Homo sapiens: one gene and its partner. The protein of the gene in region 2 interacts with the protein of the main gene of each other region in a pairwise test. Each region holds a gene or a part of one and is shown on either strand. Other genes may lie near its edges.

Evidence for each region.
Region 1: the proteins of SPG7 (region 2) and SPATS1 interact in a two-hybrid assay, tested with the Homo sapiens proteins (one large-scale study listed by BioGRID and IntAct).

The regions. Positions count from the first base shown.
Region 1 is NC_000006.12:44,362,963-44,366,785, reverse strand, and holds part of SPATS1 (spermatogenesis-associated serine-rich protein 1), read right to left. Parts: intron 1-3,823.
Region 2 is NC_000016.10:89,555,653-89,558,407, reverse strand, and holds the end of SPG7 (mitochondrial inner membrane m-AAA protease component paraplegin isoform 1 precursor), read right to left. Parts: intron 2,531-2,755; coding exon of another isoform or gene 2,323-2,530; intron 1,522-2,322; coding exon 1,315-1,521; 3' UTR 642-1,314; downstream 1-641. UniProt on the Homo sapiens protein: Catalytic component of the m-AAA protease, a protease that plays a key role in proteostasis of inner mitochondrial membrane proteins, and which is essential for axonal and neuron development.

The DNA of each region.
Region 1 (3,823 bases), on a different chromosome or scaffold from region 2:
TATTTGAAATCAGAACTGGACTAATACCCCTCATCCCAATTATTTTTTAATCTGGAGGATACGATTGCTATATAGCTGAGGTATAAATTTCTCCCCAGGGAATCTTATCTAGATAGGGAGACATATGTAAAGACGAAGGTAACACTACAAAGCAGTAAATGCCATATACTATAGAACAGTGGTTCCAAAATTTTAGCACACCTGAAAATCACCTAGGAAACTTGTTTAAAATGCAGCCTTTAACCCAAGAAATTCTGTTTCAGAAGATCTCTAATAGTTCCCAGAACCAGTAATTTTTATAAACTTTCCAGTTGATTATGATATAGGTGGTCTAAGGAGAACACCTAGAAATAGACTATGGTGGCCAGGCGCAGTGGCTCATGCTTGTAATCCCAGCACTTTGGGAGGCCGAGGCAGGTGGATCACCTGACATCAGGAGTTCAAGACCAGCCTGATCAACATGGTGAAATCCCGTCTCCACTAAAAATACAAAATTAGCTGGGCATGGTGGCACATGCCTGTAATCCCAGCTACTCAGGAGGCTGAGGCAGGAGAATCGCTTGAACCTGGGAGGCAGAGATTGCAGTGAGCCGAGATCGCACCATTGCACTCCAGCCTGGGCAACAAGAGCGAAACTCTGTCTCAAAAAAAAAAAAAATATATATATATATATAGACTATGGTAAAAGATATCACAAGATAATGTCAGGAGGAAGAAAAAGAGGCAATGGTGTGATGTCAGTATAAGGTGTTACTTTTAGGGGGAAAATCTCCCAAACAACACTTCTGAGATAACATGTTTGTTTAAGCTATTAAGTACAATATGGGGCCTTGGTATAATTTCTGGATATCTCACCAAAACAGGTATCAGCCCAAAGGGCTGGCCACTATGTATCAATAGCTGATGGACCCATAACACTGCATGATCAGTTCTAATGCTTGTTTGTTTTTAGACAGACCATCCAATTTCCTGGATGTAGACATTCAGGAGGTAGAAAATGGGAAACATACATTTAGAGACAAATAACCATATAAGGGAGCGAACCGTTCACCAAATAACTTACTCTGCCCCACATTTCAGTGCCCCGATGCGTTTAGGTAGAGCCATGTTCTGACTGATAGATTGTGAGCAGAGATGATATGTGCCACTTTAAAAAGAAGCATTTAAGGAGCTGATGTGAAAAACCTTCCAGCATTTTCTCTTTACCCTTCTATGGCAATCTTAGAAGCCACAGGTTGAGATGGAAAGGTCACAGATAAAAGCAGACAGCATCCTTGGAAAGGAGCTGTCCTGGAGAGCTGCTGGATCCACAGTGGACTTTACAAGAGAAAGGAGCAAACTTTAGTGCTTAAGCTGCAGAGATTTCAGGGACTGTTACTGCGGCAGAATCTATCCTATTCTGACTAATACAATATGCTGTACTGTGGGAAGAGCTACACAATAGAAAATTGTATTTTCAGATCTATTTCCCTACCACCTACAATCATAGATGGCATTTTGTTCTGTGGCAACAGCTAGGCCTTTAGGGAACTCCACCAATATCCTGGTTATGGCTGATGGATAACAGTCAACCATTATTTAAAGATATTTTGATTGATTTTTTGATATAATAATGCGTTGCATTCCAGTTTAAAATGGCAGCTGGTTGGCAGTCCCTGAGCCTACCACTTCATCTCATCCAAGAAATAATGAGTGGGGGCCAGGAGTGGTGGCTCACACCTGTAATCCCAGCACTTTGGGAGGCCGAGGCGGGTGGATCATCTGAGGTCAGGAGTTGGAGACCAGCCTGGCCAACATGGTGAAACCCTGTCTCTACTAAAAGACAAGAATTAGCCGGCAGTGGTGGCACATGCCTGTAATCCCAGGAGGCTGAGACATGAGAATTGCTTGAACTCAGTGGGCGGAGGTTGCAGTGAGCCAAGGTCACGCTACTGCACTCCAGCCTGGGTGACAGAGCGAGACTCTGTCTAAAAAAAAAAGAAAGAAAGAAAGAAAGAGAAAAGAAAAGAAGAAAAAGAAAAAGAAAGAAAGAAAGACAGAAAGAAAAAAAGAAAGAAAGAAAAGAAAGAAAGAGTGGGGAGAGAATTTCACAAAGGAAGAAGTATCCAGTGTCAAGCTTGACAGTATCAAGTGCTGCAGTGAGATCAAGGAAGAGAAGAAATGGAAAAAGACCATTGCGTTTGATGTTTAAAGAAGTCACTGTACATCACCTAAGAAGTAATCATATACTAAAACGAATCAAGCCTGTAGACCCAACTACCACTTCACAGGAAATACACAGGAAAGAGGAACCTGTTAAATGATACCAAGCAATGTAATCAGCAAAGTCCTGATCATGGTGAATACTGCAGGATAAGGCCTAGTTTCTTCACCATACAAATTGCAAGAAAAAAGGAGGGAGAAAGAAACTTAACAGACATACCAACCAATTTCAATCTGTGGGCCTTACTTGGATCCTGATCCAAACAAACTAAATATTTTTAAATTGTGGCATTTATGAGACAATGGGATATTTGGACACTGACTATATTAAGGAATTACTGTTAATTTTTAAAATATGATATTATGATATGGAATTGTGGTTATGTTAATAAAATAATCCTTATCTATCAGAGGCACATATGATATATTTAGAGATGAAATAATATGATGTCTGAAATTTGCTTTGAAATAATCCCTGGGAGGAGGAGTAATGATGAAACAAGTTAGCCAGGTGTTGATCATTATTGAAGCTAAGTGGATGAGTACATCGGGTTTCATTTTGCTATTGTTTGAAAATTTACCTAATAAGTTTTTCTTTAAAAAAATATGAAATATGGGTTACCACTGGAGTTGGAGGAGGAAAGATGGAATATTCGGGGAAGAGGATATTGGAGCCTTCAAATATAAAGTTAGAATTTTATTTCTTAAGTGGAGTAAAAGAACGCAAGTATTTGTGATATTTCATTTTATATAGTCAACAAATGTTTCATAAATATATCATTGCATTTACTCAGTATTTATAAAACCCTAAAGGAAGAAGGGAAAGAAGAAATGAAAGGATGGAGAGAGGGAGGGAGGAAAGGAAAAAGGAAGGAAGGAGGGAAGGAAGGAAGGAGGGAAGGAGGGAAGGAAGGAAGGAGGGAAGGAGGGAAGGAAGGAAGGAAAGAAAGAAAAAGAAGAGGAAAGGAGAAGAAAGAAAAAGAAAGGAAAGGAGAGGGAAGAATCATAAACATAAAATTCAGGATAAGGTGGTTTACTTTTGAGCCAGGAGGGCAGTGATAAGTCAAGATTGAGATTTAGGTCATTATGATAATCCCATTTACTTTTGATAGGTACTTGCAGCTCAAGAGTGCAGGGTAGGCTGGCTGCAGTGGCTCACACCTGTAATACCAGCACTTTGAGAGGCCAAGGCCGGCTAATCGCTTGGGCCCAGGAGTTTGAGACTGGCCTGGGCAACATGGAGAAACCCTGTCTCTACTAAAAATAGAAAAATCAGCCGGGCATGGTGGCACATGCCTCTAGTCCCAGCAACTTAGAGGCTGAGGTTAGAGGATTGCTTGAGCCTGGGGCTGGGGGGCTGGCATTCGGAACTGCAGTGAGCCAAGATGGTGGCACTGCACTCCAGCCTGGGCCACAGAGCAAGACCTTGTCTTAAAAAAAAAAAAAGTGCTGGGCACGGTGGCTTACGCCTGTAATCCCAGCACTTTGGGAGGCCGAGGCAGGCGAATCACCTGAGGTCCGGAGTTCGAGACCAGCCTGACCAACATGGAGAAATCCGTCTCTACTAAAAATACAAAATTAACCGGGTGTGGTGGTGCATGCCTATAATCCCATCTACTCC
Region 2 (2,755 bases):
CTACAAAAAGTACAAAAATTAGTCGGGCATAATGGTGCGTGCCTGCGGTCCCAGCTACTTGGGAGGCTGAGTCAGGAGGATTGCTTGAGCCCAGAAGATCGAGGCTGCAGTGAGCCGAGATGGCGCCACTGCACTCTAGCCTGGGCGACAGAGCAAGACTCTGCCAAAAACCAACACAACAGCAAAAAAAAAACAATTACCGAGGACACTACCCTTGGCTACACCAGCTAAAACCCTCCCATCGATGTGCTGGTCTTTGGATTTGGAGAACTGGGGCAAAGGTCAAGGCATCTCTCAGAGATGCCACCCTCGGGTGTGTGACTGCACCTGTGGCTGCCTCCTTACTGCTCCGCCAGCGTTTCAGTGTTGCAGCAACAAGAGGACAATCCACTCACGTCACTGCACCACAGGGAGGGCAGAAGCAAGGGGGCCGGAGTGGGAGCCGCATGCCCCGGAACTCAGGGCCAGGGTGTCCTGGGTCGTCTTCTATCCCTACGGGGTCCAGGCCCCAGATTCCTACAGAAGGAGTTTTTCACTTAGTCCCTGCATTACTCAAATTATAAACTGAAACCACAAGACCCTGTGATCCAGGGCAAGCCCACCAGCTCCTCTGCATTAGAGCTGGCCAGACAATGCAAATGTAGATTTTCCAACTACACAGTTTATTAGTAAAGTATCTCAACAATTCTCAGAGCAGTAAAAACCAAGGCATCCCCAACACTGCATGCGTGACTAGACCAGCAAGAAGTCCTCAACTTGCACCAGTCCACATGGCAGCAGGGGGCAGTGGTGAGTCCTCCGGAGCCCAGTGCCTGGGCCTGACTGGCCCCATTGATGAGTGAGCTGGATGACAGGGCCGCTGGAGATAGGACAATCGGCTCACAGGGTCCTTTCATGTCCGATCCCCTTAGCATTCCGAGGGAGCCACAGGAACTGGGGCGGTCGTGCAAGCGTCGGCATGAACAGGGGTCTGTTTGGAGTCTGAATGCTCTGCTGCCTCTGGGTGGCCTCAGCCACACTGGGAACGACTGTCTATAACCCTGGGAACTCGAAGTGTTCCATGCTCACTCGGGAAGCACTGATAACCTTCCCCATAGGGGAAACGACTCACAAACACAGGACTCCGTCAGTAGTTTCTGCAGAGAAACTTAAAATCATGAAAAGGGTCATCAATCAACAGATCTCAGAAGTCACTGTGCAGGGACTACTGAGGGCCGCGAGAGGAAGTGCAAACCTCAGCTGAAAAGCAACTCAGGGTGGCTGAGTGAGCCCTCACTTCCCGGACCACCCGCACGTGCAGCCAACACCTCCCAACTACTTGGGCCAAGTCGGCTCTTCGCCTCCAAGTGGAGGCTGCTGGGTCTCTTCGGTCTCCTCCTCGCCCAAGTCCTGTTTCTCCCTCTGGGCGTCGATCCACCTCTGCGGTGCGATCATTTTCTTCGGCCCATGGGGCGGCGGGCCAATGAGAGCCTCAATGTCCTCATAGTTTATCACTTCCTTTTCCAGAAGGGCGTTTGCCAGCTAGAAAGAACAGGCATAGCAGTGTGTGAGTCCCCAGGGCAGACAGAGCATCTCTATGTCCTGGGGAGGTGGCAAGAGGCGTGAGGGCCTGTCTGTGTGCAGGACACCCAGGACAGGCCACTTTCCCAGGGAAGCGGAGGCACGGAGGCAGCTCCGAAAGAAGAATCACCCCCATCTCAACCTCATAAATGATTTTCCGGCGGCCAGCCTCATTAATTTTTCTACTTCTATTCAAAATCTTGGCTTATTTTTGGCAACTGCAATTTCTTTCACCAAACAAGACGTGTGTGTCTACAGGGAAGGAGATGGGTAAAATGCTGAACCCTCCTGATTGAGGAGAGCAGCACTGGGAGAAGGAATCTGAGGCGAAGTTGTGTGAGCTGGGACCTCTCAAGTTGGGGAAGTGAATTTCTGCCATTCTAGGTGGGATCCTGGAAAACACTTGAGACACCGACTGTCCTGTGCCGGTGGACCTGCCCCTGGGGTGGCCTGGCCAGACCACAGAAAACACTGCCACAGCCACATTTCACTGGTTTCTGTGAAGGCAGAACTCTTCCAGATTTTTTGTTGTTGTTGTTGTTAATTACCTGCTCCTTTCCTCACTCTTCCAGATTTTCTAAAGAAAATGGTAACCCCTGAAGCTAGGGTGATTTACCTGTGGCTGTATTGCAAGAGACAAACACTTCCTCTCTAGGGCTGGTGTGGGATTTTACTAAGTTCTGCAACCCACTGAGTGTGTGAGTAGCTGACAGTTCATACACGGGGCAGACACACCACTCCTCAGCCAGTGAGAAGCCTTGCCTGCAGCTTTGCTCCCGTTGTGGCTCCCACTGTGATGTGCCCGAGCTCTGCAGAGCTGCTTTGTCAACCGTGATGAGCATGGGTCCACAGGCAGGCCTGCTTCAGCCGGGGACGGCACCGCCCACACCTGCCCAGAGGCGGCTGCTGCTGGCTGGGGACGACAGTCTAAGGGCCCCAAACACGATCCCCACGTGACACACAGTGCTCGCTTGAAAGACACAAGGGGAGGCTGAAGAAACAACTACCTATCCACTGCCTACCCATCTGTTCACAACATGGGACAAAGAGCCGTGCACCTCTCCTGAGTTCTAAGCAGCAGTTACCAAACCCAGGGACAAAAACGTTCACTCCAGCTCTGCCCACTGTGAGAAACACATCAGACAATCGCAACTGAGGAACGTCCTACAAAACATGAGACCAATCCTCAAAACTG